2 linked regions of the Homo sapiens genome follow. Changing the gene in region 1 together with any one later gene gives a genetic interaction. Each region holds a gene or a part of one and is shown in the gene's direction. Other genes may lie near its edges.

Region 1 (3,911 bases):
GTATTTTTAGTAGAGATGGGGCTTCTCCATGTTGGCCAGGCTGGTCTCGAACTGCTAACCTCATGATCCACCCGCCTCGGCCTCCCAAGGTACTGGGATTACAGGCGTGAGCCACTGCGCCTGGCTGAGAAGTTGCATACCTTATAGTTCTTATGCAGTGTTATGGGTGAGAGAAAGTCTTAGTCCACGTTTGTGTGACACTAGGTCACTGAAGCTGTCGCCCACTGATTTTCTGATATCTTATGCTCTTATTTTTCCTTTATTAAATTGATGGTAAAATACAAAAAGTTAACCATTTTAGGCTGGGCACAGTGGCTCACGCCTATAATCTCAGCACTTTGGGACGCCGAGGCGGGCAGATCACCTGAGGTCAAGGAGTTTGAGACCAGGCTGGCCAACATGGTGAAACCCCATCTCTACAAAAATATAAAAATTAGCTGGGCATGGTGGCAAGTGCCTGTAATTCCAGCTACTCAGGAGGCTGAGGCAGGAGAATCACTTAAACGCGGGAGGCGGAGGTTGCAGTGAGCCAAGATCGCACCACTGCACTCCAGCCTGGGTGACAGAACGAGACTGCGTCTCAAACAACAATAAAAAAGTTACCCATTTAAATGTACAATTCAATGGCATTAAGTACATCTACAGTGTGTTGCAACCATAACCATTATCTAGTTCCAGAACTTTTTAATCACACCAAGCAAAAACTGCATATTCATTAAGCAACAATTCCCCACTTCCTAGTTTCCCCAGTCCCTGGCAATCACTAATCTGCATTCGGTCTCTGTGAGTTTGGCTACTCTGGATATTTCATACAAGTGGAATCATACAAAATGTGACTTGTGGTGTCTTCCTTCCTTCTCTCCTTCCTTCCTCCTTCTTTCCTTCCTTTCTTTTTTCTTTCATTTTAGAGACAGGGTCTTGCTTTGTTGCCCAGGCTGGAGTGCAGTGGCTCAATCATAGTACACTATTAACCTTGAATTCCTGGGCTCAAGTGAGCCTCCCATCTCACCCTTCTGAGTAGCTAGGACTACAGGTGTGTGCCACCACATCCAGCTAATTTAATTTAATTTTGTTGTTGTTGTTGTTAGAGATGAGGATCTTGCTATGTGGCTCAGGCTGATCATGAACTCCTGAGCTCAAGCAACCCTCCTACCTCGGCTTCCCAAAGCTCTGAGATGACAGGCGTGAACCACCACATCCAGCCCTCTTTTGTTTAGAGTAATGTTTTCAAGGTTCAGCCACGTTGTAGCATATATCAGTGCTTCATTGTTTTTTATGGCAGAATAATATTCCATTGGGTGGATAAACCACATTTTGTTTATCCATTCATCTGTTGATGGACATCTGGGTTGTTTCTACCTTTTGGCTATAGGGAGGAGTGTCTCTATGAACATTTTTGTTTGAATACATGTTTTCTCTATACATCTTTGGCCCCATATTCTCCTCTTGGAGGTCAAGGACCCTATCTTCCTTAGCCATTTAATCTCCCTGGTAGGGGCTTGCATGTTAGCAATTATGAGGATGTGTCATAAGATGCAATCTTGGCCACACGTGGTAGCTCACGTCTGTAATCCCAGCACTTTGGGAGGCTGAGGTGGGTGGATCACCTGGGGTCAGCAGTTCAAGACCAGCCTGGCCAACATGGCAAAACCCCACCTCTACTAAATATACGAAAATTAGCCAGGAGTGGGGTGGTGCATACCTGTAGTCTCAGCTACTCAGGACGCTGAGGCAGGGGAATTGCTTGAACCCGGGAGGTGGAGGTTGCAGTGAGAGATCACGCCACTGCACTCCAGCCTGGGTGACAGAGCAATATTCCATCTCAAAAAAAAAAAAAAAGATGTAATCTTGCCCAACAGGTACAATAAAAGATTGCCAATGTATAGATGTGGGCATGTGTAAGGGACAGTGGTGAGGATGTTCCGGCTGTTGTGGGAGCTCTAGGGGAAGGTGAGAAAGCTAGGAGTGGGAAAACTGGCAGGGGCAGAAATGAGGGGGTGGGGAAATGGTACGGAGGTTCATAACTGAGGAATGACCACGACTGCACTATTTCAGGAGCAGACAAGATGGAGACAAATTCCTCTCTCCCCACGAACATCTCTGGAGGGACACCTGCTGTATCTGCTGGCTATCTCTTCCTGGATATCATCACTTATCTGGTATTTGCAGTCACCTTTGTCCTCGGGGTCCTGGGCAACGGGCTTGTGATCTGGGTGGCTGGATTCCGGATGACACACACAGTCACCACCATCAGTTACCTGAACCTGGCCGTGGCTGACTTCTGTTTCACCTCCACTTTGCCATTCTTCATGGTCAGGAAGGCCATGGGAGGACATTGGCCTTTCGGCTGGTTCCTGTGCAAATTCGTCTTTACCATAGTGGACATCAACTTGTTCGGAAGTGTCTTCCTGATCGCCCTCATTGCTCTGGACCGCTGTGTTTGCGTCCTGCATCCAGTCTGGACCCAGAACCACCGCACCGTGAGCCTGGCCAAGAAGGTGATCATTGGGCCCTGGGTGATGGCTCTGCTCCTCACATTGCCAGTTATCATTCGTGTGACTACAGTACCTGGTAAAACGGGGACAGTAGCCTGCACTTTTAACTTTTCGCCCTGGACCAACGACCCTAAAGAGAGGATAAATGTGGCCGTTGCCATGTTGACGGTGAGAGGCATCATCCGGTTCATCATTGGCTTCAGCGCACCCATGTCCATCGTTGCTGTCAGTTATGGGCTTATTGCCACCAAGATCCACAAGCAAGGCTTGATTAAGTCCAGTCGTCCCTTACGGGTCCTCTCCTTTGTCGCAGCAGCCTTTTTTCTCTGCTGGTCCCCATATCAGGTGGTGGCCCTTATAGCCACAGTCAGAATCCGTGAGTTATTGCAAGGCATGTACAAAGAAATTGGTATTGCAGTGGATGTGACAAGTGCCCTGGCCTTCTTCAACAGCTGCCTCAACCCCATGCTCTATGTCTTCATGGGCCAGGACTTCCGGGAGAGGCTGATCCACGCCCTTCCCGCCAGTCTGGAGAGGGCCCTGACCGAGGACTCAACCCAAACCAGTGACACAGCTACCAATTCTACTTTACCTTCTGCAGAGGTGGAGTTACAGGCAAAGTGAGGAGGGAGCTGGGGGACACTTTCGAGCTCCCAGCTCCAGCTTCGTCTCACCTTGAGTTAGGCTGAGCCACAGGCATTTCCTGCTTATTTTAGGATTACCCACTCATCAGAAAAAAAAAAAAAAGCCTTTGTGTCCCCTGATTTGGGGAGAATAAACAGATATGAGTTTATTATTGACTTCTTTTTTGATTTTGGACCTCAGCCTTGGGTGGTCAGGGTGGGAAATGATAGGAAGAAGCTGTCATCTGCATCCTAGTTTGCCTGAAATGAACCCAAATAATACCCATTATTATTAGTCCTGAATTATGAGTAGTGAATGATACCCATCATTCTGGCATCATGATGAGTAGTGTCCACTTCCATTCTGAAAAGTGCCCTGCTGTGAAAAATAAATTATATAGTCATCCTAGGTAAATGAAGGAGGAGGGAGAAGTGTGAAAGAGTATGGCTTAAATCAGACAAGATATACAAGAAGATACTTTATATAGGGCAGGAGCGGTGGCTCATGCCTGTAATCCCAGCACTTTGGGAGGCCGAGGCAGGCGGATCACCAGGGGTCAGGAATTCGAGAACAGCCTGGCCAACATGGTGAAACCCTGTCTCTACTAAAAATACAAAAATTAGCTGGGCGTAGTGGCAGGCTCCCGTAATCCCAGCTACTCAGGAGACCGAGGCAGGAGAATCGCTTGAACCTGGAAGGCGGAGGTTGTAGTGAGCCAAGAAAACGCCACTACACTCCAGCCTGGGTGACAGAGAGAGACTCCGGCTCAGAAAAAAAAAAAAAGAAGATACT
Region 2 (3,911 bases), on another chromosome or scaffold:
AAGGTAGGGTTACCCAGGAGGCAGGGCCATGAGAGGGCGGGGTTACCTAGGAGGCAGGGCCATGGGGAGGCGGGGTTGTCCGGTAGGTGGGGCCTTGGGGAGGCAGGGTTACCGGGAGGCAGGGCCATGGGGAGGCGGAGTTACCCAGGAGGCGGGGCCCTGGGGAGGCGGGGTTACCCAGGAGGTGGGGCCATGGGAGGGCGGGGTTACCCAGGAGGCGGGGCCATGGGAGGGCGGGGTTACCCAGGAGGTGGGGCCATGGGAGGGCGGGGTTACCCAGGAGGTGGGGCCATGGGAGGGCGGGGTTACCTAGGAGGCAGGGCCATGGGGAGGCGGGGCCCTGGGGAGGCGGGGTTACCCAGGAGGTGGGGCCATGGGGGGGCGGGGTTACCTAGGAGGCAGGGCCATGGGGAGGCGGGGTTGTCCGGTAGGTGGGGCCTTGGGGAGGCAGGGTTACCGGGAGGCAGGGCCATGGGAAGATGGAGTTACCCAGGAGGCGGGGCCCTGGGGAGGCGGGGTTACCCAGGAGGTGGGGCCATGGGAGGGCGGGGTTACCCAGGAGGCGAGGCCATGGGGAGGCGGGGTTGCCTGGTAGGTGGGGCCCTGGGGAGGCAGGGGTACCGGGAGGCAGGGCCATGGGAAGGTGGAGTTACCCACGAGGCAGGGCCCTGGGGAGGCGGTGTTACCCAGGAGGCAAGGCCATGGGGAGGCGGGGTTGCCTGGAAGGCAGGGCCCTGGGGAGGCACGGTTACCGGGAGGCAGGACCATGGGAAGGGGGGTTACATGGGAGGTCGGGCCAGGTGGAGGCAGGCTTACCCAGCAGGTGGGCCCTGGGGAGGCAGGGTTACCCAGGAGGTGGGGCCCTGGAGAGGCAGGACCCTGGGAAGGTGTGATCACAGCGGAGATGGGGCCCTGGAGAGGCAGGACCCTGGGAAGGTGTGATCACAGCGGAGATGGGGCCCTGGAGAGGCAGGACCCTGGGAATGTGTGATCACAGCGGAGATGGGCCCTGGAGTGATGGGGTCACTGAGGAGGTGGAGATCCCCAGAACGTGGAGCCAGAGAGAGAGGCAGGGCCTTGGTGAGACAGATCCCTAGGGAGTCACGGTCCATGTGGTAGGGGATGGGGAGGTAAGGCCCAGGGAGGCAAGGCCACTGCGTTCGTGAGGAGCCGGGGAAGCCAGGGGTAGTGAAGGGTCTGTCTGTGTGTGGCACAGGTCCTGGCAGCAAGCGGCTGGGCATCGATGGCGACCGGGAGGCTGTTCCTCTAACACTACAGATTATTTACAGCAAGGTAAGACCCGTGCTGGGGCTCCTTCCCCTCCAGGATCTGCTGCTGATACTTCCTCCGCCAGAGCTTGGACCCAGAGCTGGACTCGTGTGTTCCTGGGCCCCAGTCTTTACGCTGGAAGGCTGCAGCAGGCTCCCCTGGATGCTGAGAGAAGCAGAGAAGGGAAGGAGTGGATATCTCTGTGCTTCTTGGCCTCCAAAGCCTCTCTCCCACCATGTTCTCTGCCCCCACCCGAATGCGCTCAGCAGCAGCCCAGGGGTAGGGGTCTGCTGGGCCTGGCTACAGGGCTGGGGCTGAAAGGGGGAAAGGGAAGCCTTCCAGAGGCACCTCAGGGAGAAGCCAGGGTCTCGGGGGGCCAGTGTGCCTGGCAGGCTGCATGCAAGATGGGATTGGCGTGAGAAAGGAGTGAGGAGAGCTGTGGGGAGGTGGAGGGCTGTCCATGACATGCCAGAAGACATGAGTTCTCTGAGCAGGTCGCATCCCAAGGTCCAGGCTGAGGGAAGCTTGGCCTCACAGGTGGGCTTCTTCCTTCGGCCATTCCAAAGATATCCTCTTAGCACCTGCCCATGCTGCCTCTGTGCTGGGCAGGGGAAAAGAGGGGTTGAGCAGGGAAGCCTAGGCCTCACTTTAGCTTGTCTAGAGGAGGGAGACAGACAAGAAACGAGGAAACAAAGAAATAGCCAAGATAATTCCAGAGAGCGGCAAGTGATGACAAAGCAATAAAACAGCAGATGGACGGTGGTGTTGGGGCTGCAGTGCGTTTGGCAGTGAAGGAGGTGGGCAGGAGGCACCGACACTCACTGTAGCCACATGCCAGGTGCTTGCTAGACGTCTTCCACAGCCCAGGCACTGTTCTAGGCCCTGGAGCCTTCCTAAGAGTGAACAAAGGACAGACGTGGTCCCAGGAGACCTGCTGGCCCCCTGGAGTGGGTGGTAGGCATTGGTTCGATGATGCACACGATGTAAAATTACAACTGTGACACATGGATGAGGAGAGGGACACGGGATGTTCCTAAGTGGCAAACCGAACCCAGTCAGGAGAGTTAGTAGTGAAGGCTTCCTTGAGAAGGCACCTGAGTTAATATTGGAGGGAAAACCAGGAATTAATTAGGCTGAGAAGAGAGGTGAGTGCTCTCACAGCAGCAGAAACTGCATGTGCAAAGGCCCTGTGGTGGGAGGCAGTGTGAACACCTTGAAGCACTCTGAAAGAAGACCCCCAGGCTGGAGCAGAGACAGCTGGTGGGAACATGATGCTGAGGTGAGGCTAAAGAAATGGGGGACCAGCATACCAAGAGCCTTAATTGCAATGAAAGGAGTTTTGTGGTTTTTTGTTTGTTTTTTTGAGACATAGTCTCGCCCTGTTTCTCAGGCTAGAGTGCAATGGCTCAATCTTGGCTCACTGCAACATCCGCCTCCCTGGTTCAAGCAATTCTCCTGCCTCAGCCTCCTGAGTAGCTGGGTAGCAGGTGCCCGCCACCACACCCGGCTAATTTTTTGTATCTTTAGTAGAGACGGGGTTTCACCACGTTGGCCAGGCTGGTCTCGAACTCCTGACCTCATGATCCACCTGCCTTGGCTTCCCAAAGTGCTGGGGTTACAGGCATGAGCCACCACGCCCGACCCAATGAAAGGAATTTTATCCTAGTCCTAAGAGCAGTGGATATCCATTAAGGGGGCTTATGTTTGTGGTGGGGCTGGGAATGCCTGTGACATGATTATATCTGAGGCTTGGAAGCTCCCTCTGGCAGCTCTGTGGAGGACAGATAGGAAGGGTCCACAAGTGATGCAGGAAGGCCAGTTAGGAGGCTGTTGCCATGGTCCAGAAGAGAAATTAGGGCAGCAGCCTGCACTAGGGTAGTGGTGGCAGAGCTGGAAAGGAATGGGAGACAGATGTGAGTGATGTAATCAGCAGGGCCCATGGATGGGTTAGGAAAGGAGAGGCCAGACTCCTGGAGTCACTCCTCTGTGACTGGCAGCACCATCTTCTCTGGGGGGACCACAGGAAGAGGCCGGGGTCCAGTTGGGGAAGAGCTTGAGTTTGGGTCGGGACATATTATTGAGGTTGAGAGGCCTTGAGAGGTATAAGGAGACAGTGAGAATAGACGGCTGGCTGAACGGGCCTGACTTTGTGGTGAATATGAAGATGGGTGGACAGCTGCTAATGGAAAAAGGTCACGGAGGAGACTCCTGAAGGGGGGAAGCAGGGAATACAAAGAGCAGAGGACCAAGGGGAGAACCTTGAGCCCTTCATGATGTAATGGCGGGCAGAGGGCAGCGATCCAGCAAAGCAGAGAGGCACCAGCCAGAGAGGCGCTAGAAAAACCAGGAAGGTGCCATCACGAAAGCCCAGGAGAGGTTTTCAAGGAGGGGAGAGCAGTGAACTGTAAGGTCAAGTAAGCTGAGGACCAAGAAGTGTTCTTCGGTTTAACAACATGGAGGTCCCTGATGACAGAGACATTCACACAAAGACTTGAAGAGGGGGTTCAGGTCTGGCTCTGCCAGAAACAGCATGTCTGTGGGCCCAACCCTTCTTCACTCTGGGCCCGGCAGGAGAGCTTCAGGACCACCCCTGCAGGTGCTCTCAGCTCTTGTACCTTTCAACCTGGTCACAGAGGCTGCTG

The links.
Region 2: of FPR1 (region 1) and PIK3R5, changing one enhances a phenotype caused by changing the other (phenotypic enhancement), as found in Homo sapiens cells (one study listed by BioGRID).

What each region holds. Positions count from the first base shown.
Region 1 is NC_000019.10:51,745,150-51,749,060, reverse strand, and holds the end of FPR1 (fMet-Leu-Phe receptor), read left to right. Parts: intron 1-2,055; 5' UTR 2,056-2,066; coding exon 2,067-3,119; 3' UTR 3,120-3,288; downstream 3,289-3,911. UniProt on the Homo sapiens protein: High affinity receptor for N-formyl-methionyl peptides (fMLP), which are powerful neutrophil chemotactic factors. Binding of fMLP to the receptor stimulates intracellular calcium mobilization and superoxide anion release.
Region 2 is NC_000017.11:8,882,089-8,885,999, reverse strand, and holds part of PIK3R5 (phosphoinositide 3-kinase regulatory subunit 5), read left to right. Parts: intron 1-816; exon of another isoform or gene 817-1,216; coding exon 1,217-1,293; exon of another isoform or gene 1,294-1,434; intron 1,435-3,911. UniProt on the Homo sapiens protein: Regulatory subunit of the PI3K gamma complex. Required for recruitment of the catalytic subunit to the plasma membrane via interaction with beta-gamma G protein dimers. Required for G protein-mediated activation of PIK3CG.